Homo sapiens: one gene and its partners. The protein of the gene in region 2 interacts with the protein of the main gene of each other region in a pairwise test. Each region holds a gene or a part of one and is shown on either strand. Other genes may lie near its edges.

What was found.
Region 1: the proteins of TTPA (region 2) and FGF14 interact in binary tests that used the Homo sapiens proteins (3 or more experiments, as listed by UniProt).
Region 3: the proteins of TTPA (region 2) and THAP4 interact in binary tests that used the Homo sapiens proteins (3 or more experiments, as listed by UniProt).
Region 4: the proteins of TTPA (region 2) and JOSD2 interact in binary tests that used the Homo sapiens proteins (3 or more experiments, as listed by UniProt).

The regions. Positions count from the first base shown.
Region 1 is NC_000013.11:101,912,933-101,922,769, forward strand, and holds the start of FGF14 (fibroblast growth factor 14), read right to left. Parts: upstream 4,014-9,837; 5' UTR 3,714-4,013; coding exon 3,521-3,713; intron 1-3,520. UniProt on the Homo sapiens protein: Probably involved in nervous system development and function.
Region 2 is NC_000008.11:63,057,989-63,063,224, forward strand, and holds the end of TTPA (alpha-tocopherol transfer protein), read right to left. Parts: intron 4,189-5,236; coding exon of another isoform or gene 4,003-4,188; exon of another isoform or gene 3,438-4,002; coding exon 3,264-3,437; 3' UTR 1,500-3,263; downstream 1-1,499.
Region 3 is NC_000002.12:241,604,857-241,614,026, forward strand, and holds part of THAP4 (peroxynitrite isomerase THAP4), read right to left. Parts: intron 1,618-9,170; coding exon 1,458-1,617; intron 1-1,457. UniProt on the Homo sapiens protein: Heme-binding protein able to scavenge peroxynitrite and to protect free L-tyrosine against peroxynitrite-mediated nitration, by acting as a peroxynitrite isomerase that converts peroxynitrite to nitrate.
Region 4 is NC_000019.10:50,504,061-50,508,924, forward strand, and holds the end of JOSD2 (josephin-2), read right to left. Parts: intron 3,640-4,864; coding exon 3,514-3,639; intron 2,513-3,513; coding exon 2,318-2,512; intron 2,213-2,317; coding exon 2,113-2,212; 3' UTR 1,938-2,112; downstream 1-1,937. UniProt on the Homo sapiens protein: Cleaves 'Lys-63'-linked poly-ubiquitin chains, and with lesser efficiency 'Lys-48'-linked poly-ubiquitin chains (in vitro). May act as a deubiquitinating enzyme.

The DNA of each region.
Region 1 (9,837 bases), on a different chromosome or scaffold from region 2:
GATGCAGAAAACACAGACTTTGCTTCTTCCCTACAATCAGCTGAATATGTATACTTAATTAATTATTATCAGGTATATATAAACAACAACAGTGACGTATGAAATACCACAGGAGAATTATTTTTAATTGTATCCAATAAATGAAGGCTTCTCAGAGGAGATGGCATTTTCTCTCAGCTTTTCAAAATGAGAATAATTTCATAATTTCAACAGGTGAATGTAGAAGTGAGGAGAAGATGCTAGACACACAGTAAAGCACAAACAAAAGGATAAGGATTTGAAAGCATATGACTAATTTGCGGGGTGTGTGGCATTGTATTGTGTTTGAAATCTGTGGAGGTCGGTGGAGGGTAGATGGAGCTGAATCTGGAAAGGTGGGTTGCAGTCATGCTGCCTACCACACCATTAATAGCCATCTTGCAAATTTCTGTCCTTCACAAGAGTAAGTCAACTGGTATAAACATCACTCTTCTATAGGGGTAGGGGTGATGGAGATAGGAAAGAGTGTGGGTGTAGGGCTCCAACTCAATAATCTTTACATTAAATAAATTACTACTTAATAAAGGATTTTTTAAAACCCTACATTTCAAAAATGTGTATTACCCTTCCCCAAAACACAAAATGTGGAGCTATTCTTTATTCTGTTTTCAAGCATATCACACTATATTCTACTTGACAATGTGCTTAAAATTTCTATGCCTCTTTTTTTTCTCCCAATGGGACAATATTTTTTCCACCTCAAGGTCTCTGCACACACATTGCTTTTTCTACCTGCTCTTAAAATCTCTGCATCCTTCTTACCTGTCATCTCTCAACCTGTGGATCCCAGTGTTGCCCACCCTGACTACTTTATCTAATTAGATCCCTCTCCCCACCCCTCTCTCCTCCATAATTCTTTATCCCAGCTCTCTTCATGCTTTATAGGACTTTGAATTTTATTATTTCTTATTAATTTGTTCCTTTCCATAGGCAATGACTCTCTACCCCATGTTTGTGAGCTCCATGATGGCAGGAACTTCAACTCTTCTATTCACTGCTGTATGTATATATAATACCTGCTACAGAGCCTAACAGATTGTAAAGATTCAATAATTGTTATATTATTTTCAGCTATAAAGACATATAAAACCATCAGACTTAAAGGTTGTATCTTTAATAAATATGATTTTTTAAAATTTTCTGAGGGCAATTCCCTATGTAAAGAGTGTGTAATAAGAAGGTAAATATGCTTGAAAATATGTTCGACAATAAGACTTAATTAAATGAATAATTATATTGTTATATATAATAATATAAAAGCATACTATTATATGTCGATATATAATTTACATAACATAAAGTCTTAATATTTGTTTTGCTTAAAATTAGTGATACTAATAAATTAATCCTTTTCTGATACTCAAGAGATATATCTGTATTTTTCTCCTCTGAAGAATATATATACTTTTATATAAGAAATATAAGAAGAATAAAAAATTCTCATACAATTTCCTTATAACGTATCTTCCCTTCTATTTTCCTGTCCAAAGTAAGGTAGAAAAGTGACCTCAAATATATTTTTCTTACAGAACATTGAAGATTGCTTATCATTTCAAAATCAGGAATACCAACAGAGCAGTCAGGGTTGAAAATGGAGAAACGGACCATTAGAAAACTCAGACAGCTTTCTATACTGACAAAAAAGTAAACACCCAACTTAAAATTCATTAAGTGTAAAGCAAATCCTCCTTCGCCACCCAATATGGCACAAAACATTTATTGTTCATATTTATAAAATAATCTACTGGCTATATTCTTAAGAAATACACACAAGTTTTAATCATTGTTTATATTAAAATAAGCTTATTTAGTAGATAGTATGTTAATTTACTTTATGTAGACAGCCAATTTGGAGCTGTATGTGGTGAAAACTGTATTCTAAAAGATAGTCTGTTTGATGACATAAGAGGATAAGCACAATTTAAGTCATAATAGATTGATCCTCCGTCTATCAACGGTGATTAAGGCAGTCGAGTTGGTCTCATTACACAAAGGTGGGCTGAATAAGGCTCTAGGCTAATGTGGAAAATTAAAATCCATTTTTTTCTTAATGGCTCCTACACTGGTCTGAAAATATGATTGATCCCAAATTCTCCAACAAGAAGTTCTTATTTTACTTATATAATTTTATTTCTCTAACAGAACTTCCACTCTGATTTTCTTCCTATCTTTGCCTTTGAAGCTTGATAGTAAGAGCAAGTAATCTCCAATTTCTTAAATGTGACAACAAGAAATTGTCCTTTTAAAATATTCAGCATTAGCCTTTAAAAAAAAAGCATCAAAACTTTTGGTCATCAATTTGCAAATGTAAGGACACGCACTCACTCTTTGAGAAACACATGTATAGCTTATGCTTCTATCCCCCGTCTTTGGAACAACAGGGCATTTAAAACAAATACAGCTGGGAGCCGACAATGTAATGTGCTGGGCAAACATATACTCCCATTAACGTAAATAGATTCTTCAATGTTTCCTACCAACCCCACTTGGTTATGAAAAGCCAGCAATGCCCATTTCCCCCACAGAACACACCACATGCTCGCAAAACAACCAGCCTTAGCAACTGGATGCAGAGACAGGCAGAGAGAGAGACAAAAGCGCCTGGCTCCTGAATAGGATGCCTTCTCAGACCCTGGCATTTCAAAGGCAGTGAAAGGTCATCCTAGGTACTAGTTTCTCAAAGAAATACCTGTAGTAAGGTAACTATTCTAGTCACCTTTATATAGTAACGGCTTGTATCTCAGGCAATTCGCCAGTTTTTCAATTAAAACTGACACATATTAGGGATTTTTACTTCTGCCCCCCGCTCCCCGCAATTCGGATTCTTTCTTTAGACTCCCTGAGCCTCTGTCCCCATCCCAGGATTTGACTGAAGGGCTGCAGAGCCCAGGGCTGCGCGCTAAGCAGCCTTCTGCTGAACCTCAGCGGACTGGGCCATAGTTCACACACCCTCCACTCCTTCTACAGCAGCTCCCGCTGGGGGCACCGCCAGGATATCCACATTTGTCCAAGGTCTGGGAACCCGGGAGGTTTCTAGGAGACCCCAGAGACCAAGTGAGGCCAGGCCCACCCCATGGAAACCCCCACCAGCTCAGATCAGACTGCGAGCGGTGGCTCGACCCCGGGTGTGGCAGGAAGGGGTGCCCCGCGTTCCAGAGCCAGTGCCAGTCCCTATCCTCCCGGGAAGCCGAGACTCAGGGGGAACAGGTTTCCCAGAGCCCAGCCTGCAGGGACGCGGAGGGCAGGAGCCGCCGGCGAGGAGCAGCCAACTTGCCATCTCTGGCGGCTGCACTTCTCGGCGGCTACAGGTTGCCCGACAGCGGACTCCAGGGTCCCCGCGACGGCACCCAGAGTGCTCAGAAGGGAGGCCGGGGCCGGGGTGGGCCGGGAAAACCGAGGGAGGGAAGGAGCCTGGAGAAGCTCCGTTTAGGCGGGGAGGGGGCGACCCGGGGCGCATCTCCCGACCATGACCCCCACAGACCTTGGCGCCGCAACCTGCGCTTCTTGAGGCCGAAGATGCGCACTTTGGAGAAGATATCCACCAGGTTGCCGTTGCAGAGCCCGCGGTTCTTGCTGGGGCTGCTCCGCCTCCTGCTGGCAGACGGCCGGTCCCAGTGCTGCTCCCGCGCCTGCCGCTTCTGGCGGATCAAGCCGCTAGCGATGGCCGCGGCCATGGTGGCCCCGGGAACGGGTCCGGGGAGGGAGGGCGCGGGAGGACGGCGAGCCGGGGGCACCGGAGGGGAAGGCGGCGGCGCAGACCGTGGCTCGCCCTCGGGGCAGAGGAGGGGGTGCCAGGCGGGACTGGGGAGAGGGGAAGGGGGGCTCAGTCCTGACCGGGACCCATCGCCCTCTCCGCGGGGCGCGGGGCCAGGCGCGCAGATGCGCCCAGGGCGCAGCCGGACGATCCCGGGAAGCCGGACGTCGTGGCCGCCGCCGCTTGGCCACGTCCGAGTGGAGAGCGGGACCGCGGCTGCGGGCGCTGCTGGTCACCGCTCGTCGCAGGAACCCCGGCGGGGGTCGCCACCGCCACTCGCGCTGCCTTCTCGCCCTGCCCGGCTCCCGGGCGGGAGGTAGAGCCGGCCGGCGGCTCCCCGGGCGCCGGCTGGAGGGCGGGTCCCGGCAGGGTCTCTGCGCGTCCGTCGGTCCGGGTCGCGCTGGGCAGGACTCAGCGCCGGGCTCCAGCTGCCCGCGGGCCGGTGCCGCCGCCGGCGCCGCCCGCTCTCGGCTTCTGCCGGTGATTGTCAAGTGCTTTGGAAATCAGCATCTGGAGAGACCAATCTTCTCCCCTGAGATCTCTAATCAAACGCTCCGTTCCCACCCCACTACACCCCCTCCACCTATGTGGTCCCCCTCCTGATGTACCTCTTCAGAAAGAAACAAAACGTATAGGTAATAATGATTTAAAAATAATAAGAAAGAAAGCTAAGATGGATTGCAGGGATGGGGTGCTAAGAGGCCGAGCCAAAGCAGGTGGAATTGAAGGAACATCGGGGCGCTTTTTCTTAGATGCAACTCGCTGGTTCCCGAGCCTTCCGCGGCTTGGTTGGGGCTTCTCGGTCTTAACGTGGTTACCGGTGCACTGAAACTCTCAGCAGCGGTTGGAGGGCGAGGTGGTTTCCGCCCTCCCTGCTAATCCCTCCAGCACCAACGCCCCCCCGTCGCCACCCCCAACCCCGGGTTGGAGGGAGGAGCCTCCACTCCTCACCTAGTCCACCCAAACTTGCAGGACCCTCCCTTCTGCTGCAGGAAGGGTAGGTTTGTCATTTTGAAAGGCTACACGGAGCAAAAAGGAGGGAATGGAAAGAGAGAAGGTGTGATTAAGCGAGATAGAAAGACCCCACTCCCAAATATGCTCCCCAGCCCTGGGAGGAGGAGATGACAGCCGCAGTAGCTGCTACAGAACAGCAGCTGGGTAGGATAAACGCCCAGGAGAATGTTGAAGAAGTCAGGGCAGAAATATAAGGGGCAGAGGAGGGTGTCACACTATTCCAGGGACAGTGAAAAGCAGCCAGACAGGACACTCCAATTTGAGCTGTCATCTTCTGGTGTCCCTGGGCAAAGAAGCTCTGTCAGGGAGCAAAGCCATCTGAACTGTGTCTGAAATTCAAATACAACAGCCGGCGTCTCCTCCCCCTTGATTTTCTGTCTGTGTCCCGACAGCGGTTCCCTCCTGGATACCTGAAAATGTGAAGGTCCAAGAGAAAGGGCGGCAGTGGAGGGCACCCGAAAAAAACAAAAAGCCGGGGGGAGGTTGGGAGAGAAACACTTCATGCTTGGATGAACACAGTTCCGTGGTTTCTAGGATACACCAGAGTGGCAGAACCAAGTGCAGCTCTGGCTCCGGGCTTCTTACTTTTCTCCTCTTCCCTTTACACTGCTTTGCCTATCAGCTCAGGCAGCTAAAGAGAAAGAAATGCTCGAACTAGACTTCTGGAAATTCAGTGTGAAGCAAGGGGGAGAGATGGCTCACTTGGTAATCAAGAGACTTGCAACAACCTTCTTCTCCAGTGACTGCTTTAGAGCTGGAAAGAGGGCAAGCACACTACGCAGGCAGCCCTGGGAGCAGTTCTCAACCAAAACACACTTTCTCTTTGTCTCAGGAATAGGCAGTAGAGTACTCGCCACCAGGCAACTGGGGGGAAGTGCAGCAGATTACAGGGAGGCTGGGCACCTTCTGCTCTAAGCAACTTATCCACAGCTTCTCCATGGAAGCAGCCACTGCTGGGCTGTTGTTTGTTACCTTCACTCCACATTTACCAACAAGTCTCCTTTTGGGAAGGAAATGCAACCTGATGAGAGTGTGTAGATTTAGATCTAAGGCAGGGATCATTGGCTTTACGACGGTGTTTGTCATATATTACAAAGTGTACTTCTGGAAGTTTATTTTCTACACTTTGCTATGTTACATCTACAAATTCTACAATTATTAAAAGGAATATGCTAGAGTTGTTTTGCTAGAAACTTGCAATCCCTAGTCACTCATAAAATAGCAAAAGTGAGAAAAAGGGGAATGCTAATTATTTTGCTCTGCCTTTCCCTCTCTATTTTCAGTTTCATATGTCTCTTTTCTTCCATTTTTTTGTGAGTGTGCATTTATGTTGTGTTGCTGTAGTCCTGCTTAAAAAGGGAAAGATGTCTATAGAGAGATGAAAATAACTAAATGGCTATTGAGTGTGTCTGTTGTTTTAATTCACTGAAATGAGTCCTACTGAACATTAAGAGTCACTACTCTTGGTTTCTATTATTGAAGAAACGCCATTTGTACATTTCAGAAGTTCTAGATTTGAATTTGCAAATGACTGTAAGATTAAAGCATCCAGGTTTATTATCAAAGGCTTCTTGCAGTGAGTGTTTCAAAAAAGTAAAATGTTAAGTATAGTGACCTCTTAAATCTAGTATGACTTCCCCAACACACCTAGTTTATTTTTAAAGGTTCTTTAAGCCTTTTGATGTATGTGCCAACAATATTAATTTGAAAAGAGTGACATTAAGCTTCTTGTTCTTATAGCCGTGCCTCTATTTTTGCAGGCATTTTCTTATGCTGCAGTCTTTCCCCCAAATCCTTGGACTTGGGGGTCAGGAGGTCAGTTTTTGGCCCTCTCAGAGCCCTCCCTTCGTTGTTCAGCAGCCTCGGACCAGCCTGACATTCAGCACCGCGGACAGGGATCCCGCCCCAGCCCTACCTCTCCCAGCAGAAGCAAGTTCGCTGATGGAGAAAAGCGCTGGCTGTGAGGGTCTCTGACACTTTCCTCCCCTAAAAGCAGTTTCTCACTTTTTTCCCTCATGATGGGAAGGAAATTGATCTTCACAGCTTCTACCGACGTTAATAACACCTTGGAACACAAAGCCTTTCAGCTTTTCCATAACCGAGAGATACTCTTTCTTTCTCGAGCGTCCCGACCCCTGGCGCAGCGCCTGAACAGCGGACTCCGGAGTCTCCGGGCATCTATTCTGGCTGTGAATTTCAGGAGCCTCAAGCGGTCATTTCTCTTCAACGTAGCTTCCTATTTTAAGGGATCTTGGAGAGGGGGGCAGCATTGGGATAATCAAGGTCTTTTAGGTTAATCCCTGCGTTTTCATTTTACCTCCCCAAAACGCTGTTTAGTTGTTTACGGATGGAGGTAAGTGAAAGAAAACGCAAGAGAGCCATCTGCTGTCTTAAGCTGTGATAAAAGAATGTGCAAAGCTAGGGTGAAAACCAATTCAGGGCCGGTGAACACAAATGTAAAGGTTACTGTAGTTCAGAAAATAATTTGTCACTCATCAGAACCTCCTTGGAGTTGTTAATTTTACCTTTGACGTTATAAAGAGGAAAATAAAGTACGGCCCAGGTGGTGTAGCTCCTCACCAAGCTATTGGGAGCCTGAACTCTCATTTCAGAGGTTCTTGGTTCATTTCTTGACTCTGCAACTTCCTAGCTGTATAATGACCTCCAAGGTGTTGCTTTAGTCTCTCTCAGCCTCAATTTCTTCATCTCTCAAATTGAGGTGAAAACAGAGCCTCCTTTTCAACTGCTGTGAGATTAAATTTAGTAAATAAATGTAAAGATCCTAGTACCACATCTGGTGCACCCTAATTGAAAATGACAGCTATGACTGTATTATCATCATCTTCCAGTTTACTCATTTCTATCTTGTAAATTCTTTTGCAGTTTCCATGTTTTTTCAATATCAAAATATATGTATTCCCTATGTATATTTCCTCACCACCACCCCCCCACAGTGGATGCATGACAAGATTTTAGATAATTCGAAACATAAGAAGTTATTTTAAATTTTGACGAAATAAGTCCCAAGTTCAAACCTTAGTTATTATTAACTACATTTGTGAACTGAGTCCCGTAAGCCTACTTTCACACCAACTGATTGATAATAAAAACATTTCTCTACCTTTCAGAGACTATGATGAGGGTCTATGAGAAAGTACTTCTAAAAACACTAAAATACTATACAAGCATCAGTTTGGAAGGTAATTAGTACACTGTGCTTGATGGTCTCCTGAAGATGCTATGATCCTTTTGGTCCTCCAACTTTAAGTATGTTGTTCCCTCTACCTGGAAAATTTCTATTGCCCTATCCTCACACTCCTCTTGATGATTAAAAAAAAAAAATCATCAGCTAAAGAGTAAGGCATGAGCCACCATGGCTTGCCAACAGATTTTTAAATAAAAATAAAGAGACTTTTTGGCTCTGTCTTGATGGAGCTTATAGTTTAGGTCTCAGCATAGATATCTTCTCTGGGAAACTTCTTGCCACCTACCCCTAATTAACACTGAATCTAGGGCACCTTCTAAAAACTTCATCATTCCTCTACTAACACCAGCAATTGTTGAATAAAGAGAGAGCTATATTGAAACTTCTACAAAGATGTCTGATAGGTAAGTGTCTCATGCTTAAAATGGCCATGAACGAACTACTGTTCTTCCTTCTTAAACCTGTTCTTCCAATCCTCGCCACTTCTGAAATGGCAACTTCATTCTTGTTCCTCAGGCTGAAAACTTTAGTATCATATTAATGTCATTTCTTTCTCTAATACCCCGTATATATTTGTGTAAGATCTATTCTGTCTATCTGCAAAATATATCCAAGATATCACTCTCACCACCTCCACTACTACCTACCACCATCATCTTTTGGGTGATTATACTACAATAGTAACTACGAAATCCCATACTTCAAAACCAAAGTCCTCACTGTAGTGGCCTGCCATGGCTCATGTGATTTGTGCCCCATCTCTGCCTTCAGTTGTTCTCTGACATCATCTCTATTCATCTCCCTTCACTTACCACTTGCTGTCCATCAAACCACCTGGCATGATCCTATGACAGGACTTTTATACTTGCTGTTGCATTTGACTCTCATCTCCTATGAATCTTTCCTCACATCTTTGCTCATAAATCTATTTAAAATTACAACTCATAAACACAGACATTTCCTTCTTGCTACCCTGCTTTATGGTTCTACATAGCACGTACAACTTTTAAAATTTCCATGTACTTTCCTTATTTATTTGGGCTGTCTTCCCCGTTTAAAATATAAGCCTATAAAGGTACAGACTTTGTCTCCTTTGTTTACTGCCACATATCCAGTGTTTAAAATGGTGCCAGGCAAGTAGGTGCTCAATAAAGATTTGTGTATTGAAAGGATTAAGACATTGGATATCTGAACAAATAGACAGTTAATACCAAATAAGAGGAACAGAAAATCTTGCTTAATCCAGTCTGTCAAGGATGAAGTACCCCATGGTACCTAAAGAGATCCTTGATCTCTTTAAGCACCAAGACACCTAAAATTCTATCTGGATTACACACAATCTCAACTTCATAAATAGGATACACCGAAAATACTTTAGCCTTTGCTTGATGTCCTGGGCTCAACCAAACATGACAAACAGTTTGAGTTCTGAATTTCAACAGTGACACCCTCGGGGCTTACTGAAGGATGTGAGACTGTTTCCATTTGAATCAAAAAGGACTTCTGGTATTTGTGATTCACCACTTCTCCACACTTCCTAACACACACACAGTTTTCTATCTTGCCTCCTCATTTTCAGATTGTTGATTGATAAATTGACAATATGCCCTTTTTCAAATTTGCTACATCTAATCATGTAATCCATTATAGAATTTGACACCAGATAAATGTATTTGTTAAAATTATCTATAAATATTAAAGTATATAAACTCGAAGTGAGGAGAGTATACAAACAAGAAACAGCCTTATTGAAATTGAATTGATTATTAAATTTTTTCCTATTGCATTCTGAGTTCCATTATGTTCTGGATGACTTTGTGGCATA
Region 2 (5,236 bases):
ATCTAGGCTAATAGCATATTGTTTCGAAATTAAATGGCTCTATCTTGTACTTCATGCTCAATTTTGCTGAGAACCAAAAACTGCTCTAAAAAATGAAGTCTATTAAAGAAAATAAAATTATCTGATTAAGTGGCAAACTATGGCATTTTTTGCTTAAAACTTTTAACTTCTTGACTATCCATGGCTTAGTAATTAGTTTGTGGTCCCCTTTATGTACAGCGAAAGACATTAGAGAAATACGGTGTTGAACTAAGCAGCTGGAATACCAGCCTGTCATTAAACTTATGAAGAAAAAACTGACACTGGAGTGATGGACAAATAGATGTGCTAAGATTTTTTTTTCTGTAAGGAAAAGCAGTTTTTGAAAAAGAATGCCTCATATTTACATTTTAAAATTAAAAAATAACTTGTACACTATGGTTTATGTGAAAGATGTTTATTTTCTTTCAAACAATATTAAAACAAATAAATTACGTGCAGTTGAGTAACACAATGAGCACATAATACAGTTAACCTTTTAAAAGGCACTTCTGGCATAATCACTAAAGTAATATAGACAATTAGACAATTATTTGCTTTGACACTTTATTAATTTGACCATTCATTTCAATTTTCTTTTAATGTTCTTCAGTGAATTGTTTCATTTATAAACACTTCAAAGTTCCATCATAAAATATGCCTAGATTAACTGACTTATCTTAATTCTATTTACTATGGAACCTATCACCAAAAAAATCTAATTTAAAGGACATTTTAAAATGTTATCCTTTATTTGGGTACTAAACTAATCACTCCTCCACAGAGTCATAAGAAAGTGTTTGAAATAAACAAAAATAAATGAAGTGGAACTGGTGATTGATATAAATCTTCTAGAAACAAAAGTTGGGTAAGCCAGAGGTTTTTTGTTATTGACACTGTTTATTCTTTTTAAGTGATTTTGTTCTTTTATTATTTTTAATTATACAATTTTAAATAGTATGCTTTTATTTTAAAATACTTTAAAGTGTTTTTTAGAAAACAGGCAGGGTCCAGTTTTTTTTTTTTTTTTTTTTTTTTTTTTTGAGACGGAGTCTCGCTCTGTCACCCAGGCTGGAGTGCAGTGGCGGGATCTCGGCTCACTGCAAGCTCCGCCTCCCGGGTTCACGCCATTCTCCTGCCTCAGCCTCCCAAGTAGCTGGGACTACAGGCGCCCGCCACTACGCCCGGCTAATTTTTTTGTATTTTTAGTAGAGACGGGGTTTCACCGTTTTAGCCGGGATGGTCTCGATCTCCTGACCTCGTGATCCGCCCGCCTCGGCCTCCCAAAGTGCTGGGATTACAGGCGTGAGCCACCGCGCCCGGCCCAGGGTCCAGTTTTTTAATAAAAATTATAATGTTGTTAGCTTCCCAATACTAAGTCAAAATCAAAACACGTTCTCTAAAGAACAACCACAATTACTTTCAATTTTATCATAGATATATGTATAATCCTAAGTATCAGCTCACCTGATTAAACTAATTTTCTTATAAAGAAAAACACCCTTCACATATCCTTACATAAAGATACTATTAATGTATATGATTAATGTTGAAACCTAACTAGCTGAACAAATGTTCAACAGATTTTGGACCCCATATTCTACATTTTCAAGTTTATAACAAAATTAAGAAATTATAAAATACTAAGTATAAAACTTATGTCATAAATTGAGGGCTATGTTGAATTTGAAAGCTGAGATGATATCTTTCTTAATAAATGAAATATTATAAACTGCAGTAGAAACAGTACATCTTTACCGGTTATTTATTTATTTATTTTTATTTTTATTTTTTAATTTTTTTTGAGAACACATGGACACAGGAAGGGGAACATCACACACCGGGGCCTATTTATTTATTTTTGAAATAGAGACAGGGTCTCCCTGTATTGCCCAGGCTGGTCTAGAACTCCTGCGCTCAAGCAATCATCCATCCAGCCTCGGCCTCCCAAAGTGCTGGGATTACAGGTGTGAGCTGCCACACCCAGTCTTTACCAGATGTTTTTTTAAGTTAATATAAATTGCAGGATTTGATTAAAATATTCTGATACAATAGTCAAACTCATATTATTTTATGCATAATCTGAAAAATACCAGATGTAATTGACAGTAATTTTTTAAAATGTAAACATTTCCTTTCCTTTGTGTAGTTACGTTATTGTTAACTAAAAACAGTCCATGTATAAGACAAGTAAGTATGATTCCATCCCTTTCCGTGTAGTCATAAGAATGACCATAAGCAAAAGTTAAAATTACATTCTTGATTTGTTTAAAAATGCAAAGCAGATATTGAGAAGCCATCAACTGTGCCTGACGTATTTTCTAAATTATTTTTGTTAATCAATTACATCAACATGATTTCACAGAGACCTAAAGATGCCACATAGAGTAGTATGGCATATAGACTCCTCAGCTGAAAGTTTCTATCACGGCCAGGCGCGATGGCTCACGACTGTAATCCCAGGACTCTGGGAGGCCGAAGCAGGCAAATTACTTGAGTTCAGGAGTTTGAGACCAGCTTGGCCAACGTGGCAAAACCCCATCTCTATATAAAATACAAAACTTAGCCAGGAGTGGTGGTGTGCACATGTAATCCTAGCAGAGGTTGCAGTGAGCTGAGATCTCACTACTGCACTCTAGCCTGGGCGACAGAGCAAGACTCTGTCTGAAAAAAAAAAAAAAAGTTTCTATCGTGTTAATATACTAAAATAAAATTTCCCTGAGATGAAATGTCTTGCTGGTCCACAGGAATAACCATAAAACTCTATTCAGATTTTAATTATAATGAATTATAATTTAATCTGACATCCACTTAAAACAAGTGTTAATTTTTTTATCATTAGCTGACTTGTGCTAGTATTTTTAAGCGGAATATTTCTAAATTTTTTTCTAAACCAATTTAATCAGAGAACTTGTTTAAAATATAACTTTCTAGAAACATACAAAGATGCACATGAGCAGCTACTTTAGCAATAACTTTCATGTTCTCTTCAAGTACAAAATCGCCGATTTTTATGCTCTTAAAATGTACTGACATTTAATTACTTCAAAAGTAGAGAAAAAAGCATTTAAAAAGTAAAAAATCTTTCCAAACACCTGTGTTGCTCATGTCAGAAGATTTCTACATTTTTAAAGTTCAGGCAAGCATTAGTTTAAAAGATTTGCTCCTTTTCTTTCATTCATTTAACCAGGTTGGATATCACTCATGTATTTTTAGTTAGGAAGCCATTCACATGACATAACTTCTCATTGAATGCTCTCAGAAATGCTGCTGAGATAATCTTCAGACTTCATTATAAAATTTGTCCATTCCTGACAAATGTCCTCCATGGAGAATTCTTCACCACCATATTCCAGAGGAAGAATGTCTGGGAAATGCTGAAGCAAGCTTTGTTTGTAGTTGTTCCCATGCATGTGAATCTGAAATAGCCAAAACACTTTAGAAGGAAACCGCATTAGATGCATTTCCAGTGGAAAATCAACCTCATAAAACAAGGTATTCTAATAACTTCTAAAATGGAGTGTATAAATAGATACCACATCCTTTATTCCTCTGGTTATGAATCTAATAATTTTACTTATGTTTAGGTTGTATTACTGTGGATCTAATAACCTTACTGTTTCTTGGATTTGCATTCTTATAACTGCATAAAATTTATAAAAAGTTATTTTCCTCTTTCATAAGTAAATTTTTAAAGATTAAATAAAGTTATTTTATAAATTCTATTCCCTTATGTGCAAGTGATTCTTACCAAACTAATACCTTGGGACTATTCTATACACGATAAAAATGTACTAGCTGGTACTAATTCATATTAAGTAGAAGCATATATCTGAGCACACAATTAAATCTATGAGAAACAATTTATATGGTACAGTCGATGGATACTGTTAGTTAGTATAAAGTTAAGAGACAGCCGGGTGCAGTGGCTCATGCCTGTAATCCCAACACTTTGAGAGGCCAAGGCAGGTGGATTACTTGAGCTCAGGAGTTCAACACCAGCCTGGGCAACATGGCTGGTACAAAAAAAATACAAAAATTAGCTGGGCGTGGTGGTGCAGGACTGTAGTCCCAGATACTTGGTGGGCTGAGGCAGGAGGATTGCTTGAGCCCAGGAGGTGGAGGTTGCAGTGAGCCAAGATCGTGCCACTGCACAAAGTGAGGCCCTGTCTAAAAAAAAAAAAAGAATTAAAAGAATTAAAAAGTCAAATTTTAAAAAAGTATTAAAAAACAATTATGATAGTTGAGAACCTTAACTTTTCAAATATTTTAAACTATAAAATTGATCATAGAATGCCCTGAAGTTAAGAGAAAGCCGTAGAAACTTGAACCAAAAGCATACCTGCTAAAATAAATAAATAACCTTTTTTCACTTTCTAGGGCAAAATGTTCCTCTATGTATTCAACAATCATTTAATAAGCATCTATTATGTGCTGGGATATGAGGTTTGATGGATGAAATGAGTTTCCTATACTCACTTAGGAAACTCACAAAGCCAATCTTTAATTTTTTCTGAAATATGTAAAATATTATCAGGTAATTGAGAAGAAATTCTATCTCCTCAGGAAGGGGCAAAATAAGAAAATGTATGGGGCATTGCCAAAAAGTTAAAAAGGAAAAAAGTGGCTGGATCAGAGTTTTTTTCTCCCTATTTTGGCAAGTCTGTTTCCCGTCAACTAACTTTCACTGACATCCTTCCCCTAACTTCTCAACTTTTTACTTTTGCTTTTTTCTCCATATTCTCCTATTTCTTAGGTTCAGTTTATTCTTGTTTTTGTTTTTATCTAAAATATTACTCAAAATAGAAATAGTTATTTTTAGATCTCTAAGAATTAAACAGAGGGAAGCCAGATATTATCAAGTTACACTGAAGAGAGAAAAAAATGAACAAACAAAATTGATTTGTATAAAAATACTAGAATGAAAAGTAGCTGAAAGTGGCCATTTTTGCTAAAGCAGGCAATTTAAGGGTGGTTCTTGAAGACAAACAGAAGCATCCACTGCATAACCTCTAAAGAAGCTCTAGGGTCATAACTTTCTGACCAGGTATAAGATGTTATATTTTCTTAATATGAAAGAACATCGTTTCTAAAATTCCAAATGTGCTATTACAGTTTATATTATCACTGCTGACATTTCAGTGATTTTTTAGATTTAAACTGTTAAAACCTTTACAAATTGTTTTGTGTTCAAGGCATTAGATGATGCCAATGTTTG
Region 3 (9,170 bases), on a different chromosome or scaffold from region 2:
CAAGATAAATTTCTGTTGGGCTAGTGATGGTGCTACACCTTCTAGAATGGTACATGCTCACTAACATAACCCCGACAAAGAAATACATTTATACCATATTCTAGGACACACACACAAACACACATACCATCACATTTACTGAAATATATTTTCCACTCTGGTTCATTTTTCTTCGAATGCTAGTCACAAAATTGACTTTCTGACCTTTTCGTGGGTTATAATCTATAGTTTAAAAAAGACTGCTTGGGTTCTGGGTTATTTTGTATTACCCAGAATTCTCACCTTTTGGTTTATGTGCAGATGTATTACTTTGACCTCATGCATTCAATCAATAATAATATAAAAAGGTAGGAGATATTTTTAAAAACAATGAGATCTTCTAAAAGGGGATGGAGGGTCTCAGAGCTGGGGGTCTGAGAGCCAGGTGCCCAGCCCCGTTCTGAAACTGCTAGGCATTATACAAATAGTACCAAGTTGGTTTAATAAGATTCTTAACATATAGTTGTGTAATGGAGACTAAGGGAGGGTTTGCTTTTTATATTTTGTTTAAACTTTAAAAAAACTGTGTATTACTTCTATAATTAAAAAATAAAGATACTTCAACCACTCCCCATCCCTGGTGGCTCTCCTCTACTTCAGAGGCCTACACTGCTATCTCCCTAAAAGCAGGCAATTTCTCCACCTGTGGGGAGCAGGTGGTGGGAAGGGATACTGAGGGACCTCAAGGGGCTTTTGCTTTCTTGTACGGTAAGAATATGAGAACCACATACTAACAGCTTCCTTGTGACCCCAAATAGCTCAGGGGTACGTGTAAAATACAAACATGCACTATTATTTTCAGTAATATTGGGTGACTAATTTTTTTCTTTTTTTTTTTGAGACAGGTTCTCACTCTGTCACCCAGGCTGGAGTACAGTGTTATGATCACAGCTCACTGTAGCCTTGGCCCTCCCTGGGTTCAAGCAATCCTCCCACCTCAGTTTCTCGAGTAGCTGGGACTACAGGCATGTGTCACCACACCTGGCTAAATACTTTTCAGTAGAGACAAGGTCTCACTATGTTGCCCAGGCTGGTCTTCAATTCCTAAGCTCAAGCAATCCTCCTGACTCAGCCTCTAAAGTGCTGGGATTACAGGTATGAGCTACCGCACTGGCCAGGGTGATTAATTTTGATACATAAATTAAGTACATGCATTTGTTTTTATGTTTGGATTAACAAGCCTGTAATTTGGTGGTCAGCTTAATATCTCCAAAAATATAACAGAACCAGAAAGTATCATTTTTACCACTCTGTGTCTCAGTTGCACATTCAGGCAAGAGGACACCTTTCTGAAATAGATGGACAAGTTCCTTTTACACCTTCCTGCTTGGCCTTTGTCTTTGATCAGTCTGGAATTATTTTCAGAGACCTAGGCGGCCCATGAGTCAAGCAGGGTGGGGTGGAGGGAGACAACTTACGAGAAGTTCAGCATGGGCTGGCCCACGTGGGAGATGTGAACCTCCTCCAGGTACTGGAAGGGCTGCAGTGTGGGGTAGGTCCCGGCTCCAGGTGGGTCCGACAGCCAGGTGCCCAGCATCCAGGACAGTGGCTCCACCACTGGGTTCATCTTGGGGGGCTCTGAGGACAAAAGAATGAGACTATCAGTGGCCTCCCTCCAACCATGCCTTGCTGAGCTTTAAGCAGAATGCACGTTCCATATCGACGCTTGCTTCTGGTGGCCACAGCTAATCCTGGGGGACCTGTCAAGAGCGGGAGAAAATGGTCAAGCAACTGTAAATGTCATAGTGAAAGATCCAGCTTCAGAAGCCTCTGCAGTTCCTGCAGAGAAAAGAGATCCAACAGGGGCCAGGCAGGGCGCAAGCAAAGAGGCCTACACTGCTATCTCCCTAAAAGCAGGCAATTTCTCCACCTGTGGGGTGCAGGTGGTGGGAAGGGATACTGAGGGACCTCAAGGGGCTTTTGCTTTCTTGTACAGTTAAGAATATGAGAACCACATACTAACAGCTTCCTTGTGACCCCAAATAGCTCAGGGGTCCTCCATGTCCTACAGCAAGGCTGAAAGCAGCTCACACGGGAGGCACGGTGCCCTGGCGTGAAGAGTGTGTGAAGGAGACAAAGAGCATCAGGGAGAAAATGAAAGGGGATGCAGGGTCTCGGAGCAGCCAGAGTGTGAGGGCCCAGGGGCAGGCGGGGTTTAAAAGGGAAGTAAGACCCCGCTTCCCTGAGGAGGGGCTGGGGCTTCACAGCAGCCTGTGTAGTGGCCAGGAGACCCCTTTAGAAGGTCTCCTGTGGGGTTCAGTCTCTCATCCCACTAAGTGTGAAGGATGACACCACAGGCCTGGAACTCAGAGGTGGGGGTGCAGTGACAGGACAGCAGGGAGGGGCCGCTGGGTTGGCTGTTCTGCTGGGCGAACTCAAAGGGACCCCTGCTTCCTGCCTCGCTCAGCAAGGACTGGGTGCTCCCGAGCGGCTTTTCAGGATTCACTCACATGACCCTCACCCTGGCTGGATGCACGGGCCCTGCTCTTACTCATTTTCTAAGGGAGACCTGTGCGGGGACCACAGGAAAGCCCCACTGCATGCTACCCATCAGGGGCGCTGGAAGAGAAGGACTGATCCCCAGAGGCAATCCCAAAGACCTGCTTCCCAGGCCTGCTTAACCCTCAAGTCTCAGTGCTTCAATTGACAGAACGGACACTGACACCCAGGAGCAGCAGCAGGGACAGAAGCAGCTCTGTGGCCGCACAAGCCTCATCTACGGAGCCCAAAGATGCCCAAGCACAGAGACCGGCCTGCACATCAGGACTGACCCCCGGCGTCTCCTCCAGGCCCGCGCAAGCAGAAGACGGACTGACGGGGACAGGATCAGGACTGACCCCCAGTGTCTCCTCCAGGCCCGCGCAAGCAGAAGACGGACTGACGGGGACAGGATCGGACTGATGCCCAGTGTCTCCTCCAGGCCCGCGCAAGCAGAAGACGGACTGATGGGGACAGGATTGGACTGACCCCCAGTGTCTCCTCCAGGCCCGCGCAAGCAGAAGACAGCTGACGGGGACAGGATCAGGACTGACCCCCGGCGTCTCCTCCAGGCCCGCAAAAGCAGAAGACAGACTGATGGGGACGGGATCAGGACTGACCCCCAGTGTCTCCTCCAGGCCCGCGCAAGCAGAAGACGGACTGACGGGGACAGGAGTTCTTGGAACCATCGCAGCTTCTGAAATTACACAACCTTTGGATTATAAATTCCAGGAAGTCTGGGAAAAGAAGATCGGGGGAAAGGAAAGCAAAGGCTCTGGGGGTGGAGGAGACCACGTCCAAGAACAGCTTGGAACCAAGGAGGGCCGCACATGTGGCCTGGCCCAGTGGCCGAGCCCTGGGGCCCAGAGTGAGAACCGAGGGTGGAGAGCAGGTAATGAGCACTCTGCCTGCTGGCTGCACAGGGCAAACATAGGTGACCTGAAGCAGGAGAGTGGGAGAGTCCGCTCCTTTTCCAGACTGGCCTGTGGTCTTTCAGTATTTCCTTTTTTGTTTTTCTTAAATGATGATTTAAAAATTTTTTATATCAGTATTTCCTCCTCAGACTCCCGGTGAAAAGTGGGAAGGTGAGGATGGGAATATTTGGACTTCAATAAAACTTTCCTAATTAGACAATAAGAGAATTTTTAAATCAAGATTTTCGTTGCAATCTTTCACGGAGATAAGGAATAGAAGCTTCTGAATCCAATGTGTGGCCTCTGGAACGAGGCTTGTGATCTATCATAGCTGATCAATTCTTTCATCATTCAACGTGCTGGACACTCTTCCAGGGAGAAGCTGACGGAACAGTCATACATCCCTACGGAGCATACATCCTAGCGAGGGCAGACAATACACAAGAAATGAGTGAATGATGCAGAACTGAATGTACATTAGGAGATGAGGCAGAAAGGGAGACAGGGCTGTTGGGGCACTGTGAAAACCTACCCAAAAGGGACAAGGACACCCTCCCTGAGAAGTGTGCACAGACCAGGCAGGGGATCAGGGTCCCTGCAGCTACCCTGGAGAAGAGCAGACCAGGTGGAAGTGCCAGAGACGGAGGTCCTGGGTACGTAGGCCTGGTCTTGCTGGAGAGGAACAGGAGGCCAGTGTGGCCAGGGGAAGGAGATCCTCACCCCTCGGAAGGGCCGTGACCTTGACTCTGAGCAGACAGAAGCCCTCGAGAAGGCTGAGTGGGAGGGACGAGGTCTCTGACTGCAACCACAGGAAGCCAGGGAGGGCAATGGCAAAAACCCTTGTGGCAGAGGAGGGTGGCCTGGGCCAGGTGGCCGTGGTGGAGGCAGTGGAAAGGACCTAGCTTCTGGATCTATCTTGAAGGCAGAGCCACCCGGATGTGCTGATGGTTTGGATGTGAAACACGTAAGAAAAGATGGTAACGGAGGTTTCTGGCCTGAGCAATTGAGAAGACAAGTTACCATTAATGGAGAAAAGGAAGAATGAGAAGAACCTTGGGAGGTGTGAAACAGCAAAACTCAGTCACCTGGGATAGCCCAAGTCCTAAGATGGGCTAAACAAACACCATAATTTCTCAGACAGCCAGCTATAGCCTTGGAGACCTTTCAGTTTGGTAGACTTTATCCAGCTCAGCACTGAAAAGAAAGAGGCTTTGGGCCGGGCGCAATGGCTCACTGAACCTGTAATCCCAGCACTTTGGGATGCCGAGACGGGCAGATCACCTCAGGTCAGGAGTTTGAGACCAGCGTGGCCAACGTGGTGAAACGCTGTCTCTATTAAAAATACAAAAATTAGCCGGGCGTGGTGGCACACGCCTGTAATCCCAGTTACTCGGGAGGCTGAGGTACAAGAATTGCTTGAACCCGGGAGGCGGAGGTTGCAGTGAGCCGAGGTCGTGTCACTGCTCTCCAGCCTGGGCGACAGAGACGTTTTCTCAAAAAAAAAAAAAGAAAGAAAGAGGCTTTGCAAACCTCAGGTTTTTGGGCCGGCTCTCTGGCCTGTGCGGAGCACACCCCACAGCGACTGCCACGGGGCTCTGGCTCTCCTGGGACCGGGTGGACCCACTTCCACTGGTGAGCGCAGCCTGCATGGGAGCTGAACCCTGTGGGAAGCGGCACCCCGGGCGCTGGGGAGCAGCGATCCAGAGTCCAGGTTCTGAGCTGCTGCACCGGGGCCGCGATCTCCACCCCTCACGCCCGAGTCCCCGGCACGGCCACCACCGGCCCCTGGGTCCCGAGGGCCCCGAGGAAGAGGCCAAGGGGCCTGGCGGCGCCCCCCAGGGTCCCAGTGGAACAGGGGCACCAGGGCCGCGGCGCCGGGCATGGCCTTCACACTCCCCACGAGGCAGGACAGCCCCGGGCTAGGGTGAGGGGCACGCGCCGCAAGTCCTGCCTCTGCTCCCGGGCGGCCCCCTCCAGCCTCCGCCGGCCCCGCCCCGGAAGCGCAGCCCCGCCTCAGGCGCCGCATCTCCGCCCTCTCTTGCGCCTGCGGGACCGGGAGGGCCGCGCTCGCCCCCCAGCGCCAGGGTCACGCCACCGCGCCCTGTTTGGGGAGCGGCAGAGGAGTCAGGGCGGAGGCTGGGCGGCGCTGGGCGGTGGGGCGCGCTCACTGGCTGCCACCTCACCTAGCAGGCGTCACAGGGCTCACTCAAGAGCTCCAGCAAGAGCAGAGGCGGGAGCCTCGCCAGCCCCTCCACAGACCACAGCGACCGCGCCCCTCGGCCCGGAGGCCCCGCCCTCCCCACTCCTGCTTCCCCAGCCACGGGGTCTTCTCCCGGCCCCTCATCTACTTGGCAGACGCCTCTCACCGGCAGCCTCTGCCTCCCCCTGGTCTTTCCCTCCCACCACCCACCGTGGAGTCCTCTCCGGGAGGCCCTGTCCTCCATCCAGCGCTCCTCAGAGGGGACCGGAGAGGAGGCGCTCCTTAAATGGGGAAGAAAGACGGACAGAGCCAGGGACAGCGAGAGACGGGACGGGGACAGAGACACAGAGACAGAGAGACAGGGCCAGAGAGACACGGGGATGGGGCCAGAGACGGGGCCAGAGACAGAGACACAGAAAGGGATCTTACTCTTTCTTCCCTTAAAACCAGCTTCTGGGGGTCTCCGAGGGGGACTCTCAGGTAAGTAACAATATTATCACCTTCCCTCCCAAGAATTAAAAAAAACAAAAATAACGAAAAAACCTTTTCCCTGAACTTGATTTTGAGGGAAAATAGGTCACAGATACAACCCACAGCCACCAAAACACACATACGGATGCTGTGAGAAGTGGTGGGTCAGTGCCTCGCTGGAGGACAGGAGGGGCCTCTGGGAGCTGGGGGGGTGGCCCCTGAGAAGCCTCAGGGTCTGGCCTGGCTCAGAGGCCTGGGGCGGAGTGGGGAGCCCTGGACTTGGGAAGCCTGGAGGCTCTTCTGGCCCCCGCTCTGCCACAGGGAGCTCCTGCAAACAGCAGGCCCAGGGCACCCCACGCGTCTGCCCAGGACACCCCAGGTGTTCGCCCAGGTGCTGAAGGCCCAGGCTGGCCTCCATGCAGGGTTACCCACCACCCGCCATAGAGAAGTAATGCGCCACTCCGAAAGAAAGGGGTGCTGCCGGCTGGACGCAGTGGCTCACGCCTATAATCCCAGCACTTTGGGAGGCCAAGGCGGGTGGATCATCTGAGGTCAGGAGTTCGAGACCAGCCTGGCCAACATGGTGAAATCCCATCTCTACTAAAAATATAAAAAACTAGCCGGGCGTGGTGGCGGGTGCCTGTAGTACCAGCTACTAGGGAGGCTGAGGCAGGAGAATGGCATGAACCCCGGAGGCACAGGTTGCAGTGAGCCGAGATTGTGCCACTGCACTCCAGCCTGGGTGACAGGGTGAGACTCTGTCTCCAAAAAAAAAAAAAAAAAAATTAAGAAAGAAAGGCATGCTGCTCCTGAAGACCTTCTGCTTCTCCAGCAATGGACTAATGGACTCTAAGACACTGCCTGAGTTCAGAGATGGACAAAAGGTGACAAGACACCAAGTGTGAACAAGAGCAGCAAAACATACAAACTGCAAAATGTTGATGGGGCAAAGGTGAAACTAAGAGAAAGGGTCTTGCTCAGTCACCCAGGCTGGAGTGCAGTGGCATGAATACGGTTCACTGCGGCCTAGACCACTGGGGCTCAAGTGATTCTCCCGCCTCAGCCTCCCGAGTAGTTGAATGAAGCTGCTCCATGAAGAAAGACCACTAACTAAACATGTAAGAACTCAGGAGAGAAACGGCAAGGAAAGAGGAGAAGGTGAAACATGACCTGGCAGAAGTCGAGAAAGTAAAAGAAAAAAAATCAAGCCACCACCCAAATGAAGTGGAGATTGGAAGCAGCACAGGGAGAAACAAACACCGGGAAACACAGCGGAACACAGAGGACAGAAATGAGTTAAAAAAAAAGACAAAAGATAGAGAAATGGAAACAAAGTTAGAAGGACGGGAACGCCTGGCACACTGCTGATGGGGACGTGAACTGGCACAGCCTAGTGAAGACCATCTGGCATGTGCCTGAGAGGTTAAGTGTGGAGCAGTGGCCCAGGACTGCCACTCCTGGAGACATGCACTCCCAGCAGAAATGACACACCTGTCCCCACAGGACGCTGCCCATGAATGTTTACAGCAGCACCATTCCCAACAGCCCCAAAGTGGAAACAACACAGATGTCCGTCAACCAATGAGTAAACAAACTGCAGTATATCCAGACAATGGAATGTTATTTGGCCATAAAAATGAAGCACTAATATAAGCTGCAATTCAAATGGCCCTTGACAACACACCATATGAAAGCAATCAGGCTCAAAAGAGCACATATTCTGCAATTCCATTTCTGTGAAAGGTGCAGAACACACACATCTACAGAGACAGAACGTGGGTCAGTGTTTCTCCACAGCTGCGTTCTGTGGCAGAAGACGCTAGAGTCACACGTAGAAGGCGCATGAGGAGGGAAGGTGAGTGGCAAGGATGCTACGGCTGGCCACAGCGATCCTTCCAGATTGCAGGCGCGTGAGCTGGCTCACTGACACGTGCAGTGAGTGCGAGCTACAAACTAGATTCCGAAAACTCAGTCCAAAAAGTCTTCAAATAATTCAATAATCTTATAGTATGGGTGGTTGCCTGTTGAAATAATTTTTAGATAATATCGGGTTAAATAAAATATATTATTAAAATCGATTTCACTTGTTTCTTTTTACCTTTTTAATGTAGCTATTAGAAAATATTAAACTACATAAGAGACTCACTCTCTAGACCTTTTCGACAGTGCAGGAATGGAGTTTTCAACCCTTGGCACCCAAGGAGCTTTGTTTCTATGTCTTCTCCCTGAGGACATTACCAGCAGCTGGATGTCATCAGGAGACAATAGGGAAATGATGCGGAAAGAAACCTCCGTAAACACTGAATGTACTAAGCCAAAAAAAAAAAAAAAGCGGTTATAGAAACAACAAAAAAAAACTGGTTATAGGTGGTAGATGCCTGGTCGTACAGGCATGACACTCAACTCATAGGACCCTTGAAGGGGCAGAACTCCCCACTGGTCTTGTCCCTGAGAGCTGACACCACAGAGGCTTACAAATGAAGTAGCAGTGGAAGATTTCATTTTAAAAACTGGGCCGGTTGCAGTGGCTCATATCTGTAATCCCAGCCCTTTGGGAGGCCGAGGAGGGTGGATTGCCTGAGCTCAGGAGTTTGAGACCAGCCCAGGCAACATAGCAAAACACTGTCTCTACCAGAACTACAAAAAATTGGCTGGGCGTGGTGGCACGTGCCTGTCGTCCCAGCTACTCAGGAGGCTGAGGTGGGAGGATCGCTTGGGCCTGGGAGGCAGAGATCGCAATGAGCCGAGAGCACATCACTACACTCCAACCTGGGTGACAGAGCGAGACCCTGTCTCAGAAACAAAACAAAAACAAAACAAAAAAAAGTAAAACACAACAAGCATAATATAAAATAAGATGACAGAACCAAGACTAAAAATGCTTGAACTTACATATGAAAAAGCTTTTCAAGGCCGGGCATGATGGCTCATACCTATAATCCCATAACTTTGAGAGACCGAGGTGGGTGGATTGCTTGAGTCCAGAAATTCGAGACCAGCCTGGGCAACATAGTGAAACCCCATCTCTACCAGAAATACAAAAAAATTAGCCAGGCATGGTGGTGCGT
Region 4 (4,864 bases), on a different chromosome or scaffold from region 2:
TCTGCCCGCCTTGGCCTCCCAAAGTGCTGGGATTACAGGCGTGAGCCACCGTGCCTGGTCTATTATATTTATTTTTATTTATTTTTTTGAGACAGGGTCTCACTCTGTCACCCAGGGTGGAGTGCAGTGATTCGATCATGGCTTACTACAGCCTCGACCTCCTGGCCTCAAGTGATCCTCCTGCCTCCACCCCCCAAGTAGCTGGGATCACAGGTGTGCACCACCATGCTTAGCTTATTTTAAAATTTTTTGTAGAGACGGGGTCTCACTATGTTGCCCAGGCTGGTTTCAAACTCCTGAGCTCAAGTGATACTCCTGCTTTTGCCTCCCAAAGTGCTAGGGTTACAGGTGTAAGCCACCATGCCTGGGCTATTATATTTTTGAGACAAGATCTCTCTTACTCACGATCATGGCTAACTGCAGCCTTAACCTCCTGGGCTCAAGCAATCCTCCTGCCTCAGCTTCCCAAGTAGCTGCGATTATAGGTGCTGGCCACCATGTCCCGCTTATTTATTTATGAGACAGAGTCTTCCTCTGTTGCCGAGGCTGAAGTGCAGTGGTGCGATCTTGGCTCACCAAAACCTCCATCTCCTGGGTTCAAGCGATTCTCCTGCCTCAGCCTCCTGAGTAGCTGGGATTACAGGCACCCGCCACTACAACCAGCTAATTTTTGTATTTTTAGTGGAGATGGGGTTTCACCATGTTGGCCAGGCTGGTCTTGAACTCTTTTTTTTTTTTTTTTTGAGACAGAGTCTCGCTCTGTTGCCCAGGCTGGAGTGCAGTGGCACAATGTTGGCTCACTGCAAGCTCTGCCTCCCGGATTCATGCCATTCTCCTGCCTCAGCCTCCCAAGTAGCTGGGACTACAGGTGCCCGCCACCATGCCTGGCTAATTTTTTTGTATTTTTAGTAGAGACGGGGTTTCACCGTGTTAGCCAGGATGGTCTCGATCTCCTGACCTCGTGATCTGCCTGCCTCAGCCTCCCAAAGTGTTGGGATTACAGCCATGAGCCACCGCGCCTGGCCAGTCTTGAACTCTTGACCTCGGGTGATCTACCCGCCTCGGCCTTCCAGAGTGCTGAGATTACAGGCGTGAGCCACCAGCCTCACATGCCACTTATTTTAATTTTTTTTTTTTTTAGAGACAGGGTCTTGCTATGTTGCCCAGGCTGGTCTCATACTTGTGGACCTCAGCCTCCCAAAGCACTGTGATTACAGGCATGAGGCACCACATCTGGCCAGGGTGTGGACATCTTTGGGGCCACTGTTCTGCCCGCCTGCCAATCAACGGAATAGAATCGAGAGTCAAGAAGTAAACTCAGGCATGGTGGCTCACACCTATAATCCCAGCACTTTGGGAAGCAGAGGCAGGCAGATTGCTTGAGGTCAGGAGTTCAAGACCAGCCTGGGCAACAAAGCGAGATCCCATCTCTACAAAAAAATTTAAAGAAAGTAGTCAGGTATGGTGGCATGCACCCGTGGTCCCAGCTACTTGGGAGGCTGAGGTGGGAGGGTCGCTTGAGCCCAGGAGTTCAAGGCTACAGTGAGCTGTGATTGACCCACTGCACTCCAGCCTGGGTGACAGAGTGAGACCCCTGTCTCAATCAATCAATCAAATAAAGAAGTAAACACCTGCTTTCTCCTTAGCAATGACCCCCGTGGAACCCAGGAGATCAAACTCATTTGTTTGCCACTGGTCTCTCTCCAGCACCGGAGGAGCGTGAGCCCCAGGGGGCACGGACTTGTGTTTTTTTCTGCTGTGTCACTGATGAGGAAACTGAGGCCCAGCAGTGAGAAACTGGCATGAGGTGGCAGAGAACCAGGAGGCCTCCTGGGCTCTCGGCCCCACACACCAGGGTGTCTGGCCTGTAAGGTAAGTGGGAGTCACTGAGTGGAAGGGGCCCCAGAAGGGTGGGGCCGTCAGACACAGGCCAGGCAGGCAGCAAATCAGCAGATTTATTGAGGCAGCAGCGGCAGTGGGGAGCAGGGGTGTGGGGAGGGGGCGGGGCCTCCCCAGGGTCCATGAAGTGCTGGCCTTTCCCAGGCATGCAGTGTGCGCAGCCGGAGGGGGATGCGCAGGGACTGCGCTGTGGGCGCCGATGGTCAGCCATGGTCAGTCTGTCCGCAGCCAGCTGCCCTTCTCCTCCACCTCCTTGGTCACTACCAGCAGCACCTCGCACAGGCCCTGGGCCAGCGCAGCCGCCAGGAAGGCCCTGGGTGGGAGAAATGGGGAGACTGAGGCTCGGCCAGCCTGGGCATTCCGTCTGGGGAGTGGGGTTTCAGGCCCCTGGTCTTGGAATCGCCTCTGTGGGGCTCACCTGACTCCGTCCTCATCCCCCAGGGCCTCGGGCGCCCGCAGCTTGGAGTCCAGGTTGTAGTAGACACCGTCCACCTGGCGCAGGGCCACCCAGTGCCGCCGGCGCAGCGGCAGTGACAGCAGCCCCAGCGACACGGGCGAGGGCAGGTTCAGGATCAGCCCCAGTACCTGGGGCAGGGCCAGCTGGGACAGGGGCCTGTGTGGGCAGGGAGGGGACACTGCCATCAGGGCCTGCTCCGCCCGCCGGTGAAATGTTGCTGAACATGTGGGGCCCAGGCTGGTGGTGGTGAGGGCCTCCTGAGCCCACCCAGAGGTGTTCCTTAATCAGCCACCCTGGTTCCCGACACTCATCCGTTCACCTGCCCACTCAAACCTCCCACCCATGCGGCCACCCAACCAGACCTCCCACCCACCCACCCACCGTCCACCCACCCACCCACCGTCCACCCAACTCACATCGGCCCTTCACCAACCACCATCACCCTGTCTGTCCAGCCACCCACCCACCAACTTACCAACTCCTCACACAGCCACCCAGGATCCATGCATGATCCGCCCACCCCACTGAGCCTCCCAGCCACCAGCCAACTTCCCAATGACGATTCACACACTCACCTCCCATCTATGCATTCACTTCCATCCCTCATATACACCCGCCCCACCTCCCCGTCAACCACCCAACCACCATCACCATCCAACTAGCCATCTACTGTTCACCACCCACCACCCACCCACCCACCCACACAGCCGGCCACCACCCAGCCAGCCATTCACCCAACAGTGGACTCGCCATGCCCCCAATCCTCACTCACTCTTGACCCCCCTGCCATTGGTCTACCCCTCATCCACCAGCCACATGCCCAGCCACTGGCCAGCCGGCCATCAAAACTTCCCATTCATCCACCCAACTCCCCAGCCTCCTGTCTGCTGCCCATTGCCCAGGAACACCCATCACTTCACTCCCCCTGACCCAACACATCCAACGGCCTACTCAGCATTCACCCAGTAACCATCATCCACCCAGCATCTCAGCCCATCGACCACCTGATCTCCCCCTTTCAACCCATCAGTGCCAGGCTTCCCACATTCATGCCAACCTCCCCCAGCCACATTCCCCTCCCTGCCCCCCAACAGGCTCACACTATAGGGTGCCCTCTGTGCCCGGCCCAGCACATGCTGTGCTGCTCTGGGGCCTACCTCCTCCTGTCCCACCACACGGCGGCCAGGCCCAGCCCCTGCAGAGCGGCCATGATCACATTGACATCATAGTTGCCGGTGCCCAGGAGGCTGCGATGAGGGTTCAGCCGGGAGTCTGGGGCCAACCTGGTAGTGGGGGTGGCCAGAGCTGAGGTGGGGACCCCTGGAAAGGCCTCCCCACAAAATGGGGGTCCCAGGGGCCACAAGTTGCCTCAGCCTTTGACTCTCCCCGCTTCAGACCCCACAACTCATCCACCCCCAAGTCCTGCCTCTCCTGCCCCAATTCTGCCCTGTCCCCAAGTCCTGTCTCTCCTGCCCTGACTCTGCCCTGTCCCCAAGTCCTGCCTCTCCTGCCCCGACTCTGCCCTGTCCCCAAGTCCTGCCTCTCCTGCCCCAACTCTGCCCTGTCCCCAAGTCCTGTCTCTCCTGCCCTGACTCTGCCCTGTCCCCAAGTCCTGTCTCTCCTGCCCTGACTCTGCCCTGTCCCCAAGGCCCCAGATGGGCTCTGTCTTCTCCCGCAGCCTCCAGCCTCCCTCCAGTCCATTCCCACACGGCCCTGGCCCTCTCCTGCTCTCAGCTCTCCCATGGCTCCCCAATGCCTTGGACAAAGTCCCTGTCCCTCCGCCAGTCCCTTCCTCTGTCCTTCAAGGCCCACCTCAGATGTCACGTCCTCTGAGAGGAGCCTCCTGACCTCCAGGCTGGATCGGGGCCCTGTCTGGGCTCCCCCAGTGAACTGAGCCACCTCAACGATGACAGCTGCCCGCATCACCCTGATTTAACACTGCTTGCTTCTCCCACGGGGTTGCCCTCACCCCTCCCCTGCTCACAGCCCACTCTGCTGCCTCATTTCCCCCAGGACAGAGTCCCACAAGGCCCTGCGTGGTCTGGCTCTGGTGGCCTCACCTCAGAGCCTCAGCACCCTCCTTCCTGGTCCCCTGTCCCCAGCCACATCCCCGGTGCCCACCGCCTCCCGCCCCACCCCCGCCAACCTTTCCTCCAGCTCTTCCCCTGCCTAGGAAGGCTCTTCCGCCTGTCACCACTTGTCTCTGGGCCCTGCCTCTGAACAGCTGCACCTCTGTTCCCTATCTGGACCCTGGGCAGGCAGGACATGGGAGGAAAACGCTCGTGTGTGTGTGTGTGTGTGTGTGTGTGTGTGTGTGTGTGTGTTTCCCTCACCACCCTTAGGCTGGCACTTGTGTCTGAGTCATCTCAGGGTCTCCAGCATGGCTTTTGTATGAAAGAGCTGATGGGTCCTTGTTGCGAATGATAGAGGAGATGACTAAATACCATAATAATCAGTCTGAGGGGCTGGGACTCTTAAGATGTCCGAGAGCCGGAGGAGGCTTGGAGC